2 linked regions of the Homo sapiens genome follow. The protein of the gene in region 2 purifies or fractionates together with the protein of the main gene of each other region. This does not show direct contact. Each region holds a gene or a part of one and is shown on either strand. Other genes may lie near its edges.

The links.
Region 1: the proteins of DPH5 (region 2) and PARVA fractionate together in Homo sapiens (co-fractionation; one large-scale study listed by BioGRID). This does not show direct contact.

Annotation. Positions count from the first base shown.
Region 1 is NC_000011.10:12,384,071-12,387,570, reverse strand, and holds part of PARVA (alpha-parvin), read right to left. Parts: intron 1-3,500. UniProt on the Homo sapiens protein: Plays a role in sarcomere organization and in smooth muscle cell contraction. Required for normal development of the embryonic cardiovascular system, and for normal septation of the heart outflow tract.
Region 2 is NC_000001.11:101,015,785-101,019,284, forward strand, and holds part of DPH5 (diphthine methyl ester synthase), read right to left. Parts: intron 1-3,500. UniProt on the Homo sapiens protein: S-adenosyl-L-methionine-dependent methyltransferase that catalyzes four methylations of the modified target histidine residue in translation elongation factor 2 (EF-2), to form an intermediate called diphthine methyl ester.

The DNA of each region.
Region 1 (3,500 bases), on a different chromosome or scaffold from region 2:
ACACACACACACACACGCTCAAAAATAGAGACCTGGATAGAATCTGGGGACTGGAAGAGTCATCCAAGGTTAAAGCAGAGTTTGGGGTAACCTGGGGACTCCCTCTATGGGAATAAGATGCCCAGTGATGATTCAGACAGTTAGTTAAGAAGCATTTTAGGGAGCACTGGTTAAGTACTAGGTAGTATGCTAGGCACCAAAGATACCACACAACGGCTACCCTCATGGCATCTGCAGAAAAAACAGAAAAGAAAGGATGCTGCCTAGGGCCTGTGCAGGAGGAGGTCTCCTTGTGCTGGTGCTCTGGTCCTCAGGCAAAGCCCTCATTGGATTTCCTACTGATTTCAGGCTGCACAACCTATTGAAAACCTAACAGAATGTGTTTACACATACTTTTTAAAAGTATTTTATTTTTGAAATGATTGTAGGGCTTTCCTCAAATGTTGTTCTTTGTTCCATGACAGTGAGTGGAGATTTTAGATGCTTACAAATGTTTACATGAGGATTTCATCTCTTCTCCTGGACTCATGGCTGGAACATAATTATGAACTGTGCTTGTTAACCAAATAGAGATATTCCATGAGACAAGAAGGCTGATTCCTAATATGGAGGTGTCCTTGGGCCGGGGCCCACTTATCCTGGTATCCATCTCCTCCTCCCGACACAGAGGTGCCTTCATTAGTAGAGGAAAGAAAGAGGTCTTTGTGATGATGTAATTCCCAGACCACCCTACACAGACAATAAAACTGAATTTGAGAGAAGCTGGGTGAAATAAGAGCTCAGAAATCATAGAATACCAGTGCAGCAGGGACCTAAGAGGTTATTTAGTCTAATCTTTTAATGTTAGAAATGGGCAAATAACACCAAAAGGGGAAGAGATCTGTCTAAGATTACATGGCCAGTTAATGGTGGGCTATTTTCATCAAGGTAAATATGGGGAAATTCATTCCACAGAAATTCTAATAACTGTGTGTTTGATGATATTATGGTAGGCAAGAGGGCTGTCACCATAGTGTGTGACAAGCAGCTGCAATGCAACATGACCAGTGCTAGCACAGAGTATAGACAAGGCACTGTGGGATCACAGAGGAGGAAGCATCTCACTCTTCCTGTGGGCACTGTGGAAGGCTTCATGCAGAAGAGGACTTCTGAGTTGGGTCTTTATGAATGAACAGAAGTTGGTTGTATAGGAAACGGAAAAGGTATTTCCAGAATATGGAACAGCATGTAAAGGCATAAACATGTGAAAGAAAATGACATGTTTGGGGGATTAAGAGTGGTTTCCTATGGTAAAAATGGAGATTTATTGGAAGGGAAATAGAGGAGACAGCAAAAAGGTAAGGGAAGGAGTAGCTGTGAAGGCCTTGGATGGCATGTTAAGAAGTTTGTCCTGGAGAGAAGTTATCTTTGTGCTTTAAAAAACAATGTAGTGGCAAAAGGATGAAGAATGGGCTGAACAAAAATGGACCCATGATAGGAAGCCTAGCTGGGTGGATAACACAGTATTTCAGGTGGAAAATAAGAGTAAAAATTTTGAAAATGAACGAACAATCCAGAGCACTTGTGAAGGCTGAATTAAAGCAGTGATATTTAGATATTTAGTGATGGTAGACTCAGCAGGATTTCATAAAAGATGATTAGACATGGGGAATAAAATGGAGGATGGGGCAGCAAACTACTGCCCTTGGGTCATGTGCAGGCTGCCATCTATTTTGTACAGCCCAAGTGCTAAGAATGGTTTTTACATTCTCATGTACACGTACATGCTTCCTTCAATAGCTGAGAAGAAACAAAAGAAGCATCTTTTGTAACACATGAAAATAATGGGAAATTCAAATTTCAGTGACCATAACTAAAATTATATGGGAACATAGCCACACTTGTTAATTGACCTATTGTCTCTGGCAGCAAAGGCAGAGCTGAATAGTGCAAACCAGGTCATAGGTCTCATAAAGCCTTAGATAGTTACTATTTGGCCCTTTCAGAAAAAGTTGCTGACCTCCTCCAGGATTCTCCAACTCAGTTAAAATCAGTTCATCTTTTTAGTTGCCCAGACCAAAACCTTTGGGGTCATCTTAATTCTACTCTTAGCTGCCAACCGATCTTTCATCAAGATCTGCTGTATTTTAAAAATATATCCAGAATTTGACCCTCACTCCTTCCCTTGCTACCACTCTGTTCCTCAGCACTACCATCTCTCAGCTGGGTCATTCTGGTAGCCTTTATTTATTTATTATTTATTGAGACAGGGTCTTGCTCTGTCACACAGACTGGAGTGCAGTGGTGTGATCATGGCTCACTGCAGTCCCAAACTCCTGGGCTAAAGCGTTCCTTCCATGTCAGCCTCCTGAGTAGCTGGGGCTACAGGTGTGCACCACCACCCATGGCTAATTTTTTTGTAGAGATGGGGTTTCGCCATGTTGCCCAGGCTGGTCTTGAACTCCTGAGCTCAAGCAAACCACCCACTTCGCCTCCCAAAGTGCTGGGATTACAGGCGTGAGCCACCATGCCCAGCCTCATTCTAGAAACCTTTTGCCTCATCTCCCTGCTTCATCTCTGCCTGCTTCAGTCACTTAACACCATCTGAGTGATGGTGTTTTAGCACCATCAGTTAAAACAGAAGTGAGATCACGCCATTCCTCTGCACAAAGTCTTCCCGAGCCTTCCCATCTAACTCTGAGTAAAGGCCCAAGTTTTACAATGGCTTCCAGGGCCCTACAAAACCTGCCTCTGCCCTTCCTCTTGTTACACCCGGGACCAACCCCCGTTCCACAATCATGCTCACTCTCTTCTCCAGTCACATCAACCTCCTTCTTGGTCCTCAATAATGTACCAGGTCCACACCTGCCCCAAGGTCTTTGCATCTGTCATTCCTTCCACCTGTAATGTTATTTTCCAAGATATACATATGGTTCTCTTCCTCACTTCCTTCAGATTGGGACTCAAATCTACCCTTCTTAGTGAGGCCTTCTCTAGCCATCCTACTTAATACTGACAACCATCCTCAGACCACAACCCTCTATTTCTCTTTTTCTTGCTTTATTCTGCTCTCTAGCACTTACTACCACTCAAACAAAATACAAACATTACCAATTTATCTTGTTTATTACCTGTCTCCCCTGTTAGAATGTAAGCTCCAGGAAGGCAAGAGTTTTTGTTTTGTTTTCCTTTCTAGAACCTAGTACAGTGCATGGTACGTGTTAGGCACTCAATAAATAGTTGCTGAAAGAATGGAAATAATGGATCAGAAAGTGACTGGGAGATAAGAAAAGACAAGCAGGTAGAGATAACTCTTTCAAGGCATCTGGTGAGTAGCTAAAGAGGAAACCAGTATCAGGAGACTTTCTCCAAATAGGAAAGACTCAAGCATATTTACAGAACGTCAGGGCGACAGAGTGGCAAAAAAAGATGGGATATGAGAAATAGCATATCTGGCTATGCCAAGTCTGGGAGGAAGCTGAAAGAAATGGCCTTATGAGCAAGGAGAGAAGGGACCTCCT
Region 2 (3,500 bases):
ACATTTATGTTATAGAGACAACTTTTTTCCTTAAACCTCATGAACCAACCTCGGCTAGCTTGGAACAATTTTTCTGCAGCTTCCTCACCCCTGTCAGCCTTCATAGACTTGAAGAGAGTTCGAGCCTTGCCCTGGATTAGACTTTAGCTTAAGGGAATATTGTGGCAGGTTTGATCTTCTATACAGAACACTAAAACGTTCTCCCTATCAGCAATAAGTCTGTTTTACTACCTTATCATTAGAGCATTCGTAAGAGTAGCACTTTTAATTTCCATTAAGAACTTTTCCAGCCAGGTGCAGTGGCTCACATCTGTAATCCCAGCACTTTGGGAGGCTGAGGCAGACAGATCACGAGGTCAGGAGATCGGGACCATCCTGACCAACACGGTGAAACCCCGTCTCTACTAAAAATACAAAAAGTTAGCTGGGCGTGGTGGCAGGCGCCTGTAGTCCCAGCTACTCGGGAGGGTGAGGCAGGAGAATGGCGTGAACCCGGGAGGCGGAGCTTGCAGTGAGCTGAGATTGTGCCACTGCACTCCAGCCTGGGCAACAGAATGAGACTCCTTCTCAAAAAAAAGAACTTTTCCTTTGCATACATAACTTGGCTGTTTGATGAAAAAGGCCTAGTTTCCAGCTTATCTTGGCTTTCCTTTTCTTTCTTTCTTTTTTTTTTTTTTTGACACGGAATCTCACTATATCACCCAGGCTGGAGTGCAGTAGCATGATCTTGGCTCACTGCAACCTCCACCTCCTGGGTTCAAGCAATTGTCCCTCCCTCAGCCTCTCGGGTAGCTGGGATTACAGGCACCCGCCACCACGCCCAGCTAATTTTTGTATTTTTTGGTAGAGACGGGGTTTCATCATGTTGGCCAGGCTGGTCTTGAACTCCTGACTGGAGGTGATCTGCCCACCTCAGCCTCCCAAAGTGCTGGGATTACAGGTGTGAGCCACCACACCCAGCCTCTTGGCTTTCTATATGCCTTCCTCATTTCTAGCTTTTGATTCAAAGTGAGAGACATGTGACTCTTTCACTTAAACACTTTGAGGCCATTGTAGGGTTATTAATTGACCTAACTTCAATATTGTTGGGTCTCTGGTAAAAGGGAGGCCCAAGAAGAGAGAGAGAGTTGGGGGAATGGCTGGTTGGTGGGGAGCAGTCAGAACACACACAACATTTATCAATTAAGTTCGCCATTTTATATGCGCTTGGTTTGTGGCAACCCAAAGTACAACAGTAACATCAAAGATCACTGATCACAAATCATCATTAACAGATGTAATAATGAAAAAGCTTGAAATATCACAATAATTACCAAAATGTAACACAGAGACAGGAAGTGAGAACATGCTGTCAGAAAAAAATGGCACCAATAGGATTGCTCAATGCAAAGTTGCCACAAACCTTCAATTTTTAAAAAATGCAATGTATGTGAAATGAAATAAAGCAAAACACAATAAAACGAGGTATGCCTGTACATAAATTTTCACAGCTTGTCACTCAGTCTTTATATGAGAGTCCTATCTCCTATAATATTGGATTTTATATCTGTCCAGCAGTCATTTTAACTGTTTTTATTTGGTTACTGTGTGTAATTAGGATGTGTGTATGCGTATGTACGTATGTGTGCATATTTGACCTGTTGCCTTTCCATTTTTAAGATAAAATCTCAAGATTGTAAGTAGGTAGATTGGAGTAAAGAGAGACTATAGATAAATATAAACATGGACACAGTGAAATGTAACCGCTTATCAATTTAGAACTTCATTTTAAAGGCCTTTTTCCCTCCTGATAAAAATTCCAGGCCCTACTGGGTAAAGCAACATTAGCATGTCTGAGAAACCACATGCAAACAAGTAGAACCTGTGGACTGGTCAATGCATACCAAGTAGGAAGATAAAGGGCTTTCACCCCATGGAGCAGTCAGATATATATTAACAAATTAACAAATGCCCACCAGGGAAGCCTGTTTTTAATCACATACATAAAATAAAACTGGTATGAAAAATAATCATTAATTTGATTTCAAATAAGCTTTTAAAAAATAACATGAATGTCAATTATAAAGAATTGTTTTTAATATCACCTTCAACAGAATCTCACTACTTAACATTAAGAGTAAAGAAAACTAAATTAGTTACTTGGTGAGTTATTTAAGCAAATGAAAAACTGGCTCAAAATTACATCTCTATCACAAGTTTATTTAAAATGAGTAGACACATACATATACACACAAACAAATTTACTATTTCTAGGTATATGGCTCTATCTAAAATCATATATGTGTATATGTATGTATGCTCAGAAATAGTAATAAATCTGTCTGTAATAACATGCTTGTTACTTGAAATTGTTCTAAAGGCAATTTCAAGAAAGGAGATCCAAAAATGTTTTGATTAATGGAATCAATAAAATAAAGTACACAAAGGTGACCAATTTGAATATACAAAATTTGATTTTTTTTTTTTTTTTTTGAGACAGAGTCTTGCTCCATTGCCCAGGCTGGAGTGCAGTGGCACGATCTTGGCTCATGCAACCTCCGCCTCCCGGGTTCAATCAATTCTCCTGCCTCAGCCTCCTGAGTAGCTGGGATTACAGGTGCCTGCCACCACGTCTGGCTACTTTTTTGTATTTTTAGTAGAGATGGGGTTTCGCCACATTGCCCAGGCTGGTTTCAAACTCCTGGGCTCGGGCAATCCACCCGCCTCAGCCTCCCAAAGTTGCTGGGATTACAAGCATGAGCCACTGCGCCGGCTGGTATGTTTGTTTTAAATTTTATAGTGTCTCCGTTTTTGACATAAGTGTGGCTGGTGGGCCAGAAATTTAGTAATGTTTGCAATGATATAGCGCAAATGACGTTTTCATGAACTATGGAAGCACTAACACTTGGCACTATCCTTTTGAAAAATAATTGACAATATGCTTTATTCTACAAAATGTCCATGTCCACACCTTTTGATATTTTATTCCTAAAAACCTATTTTGGAGGATCTACCATAAGGAAACAACCTAAAACATGGGGATAAAGAAGTGGGAGGCAGGAAGGTATCATATACATAAATTTACATGTGACAGCTTTATTTATATTGAAGAAAAATAGACTAATAATAATGCTGCCATTGATTTTATAGTTATTAGGTATCAAGCACTGTTCACATTCATTACATGGAATGGAAGCAGTCAGCCTACATCAGGACATATTATCTGTATATGGATGCCACTAAGGAAAAGGCATACAACATAGGGATAAAAATTTTGTATTCATTATAATAATATAGTTACAGAGCATATTGAAATACAGAATGGAATAATAAAACAGAACCATCATTAGAAACAGTGTGTTTAATAAAGACTTCTTATGCAGAGATTTAGGGATAGAATGTTTGAGACTGTCAACTCTCACAGTGATTAAGTTCTATTGATTTAGTATATATTTTTAGACTCATTTACTTTCTTTGTGTGATCTATTTCCATATTCCTTTCAATAACCTGGGTAAAAGAA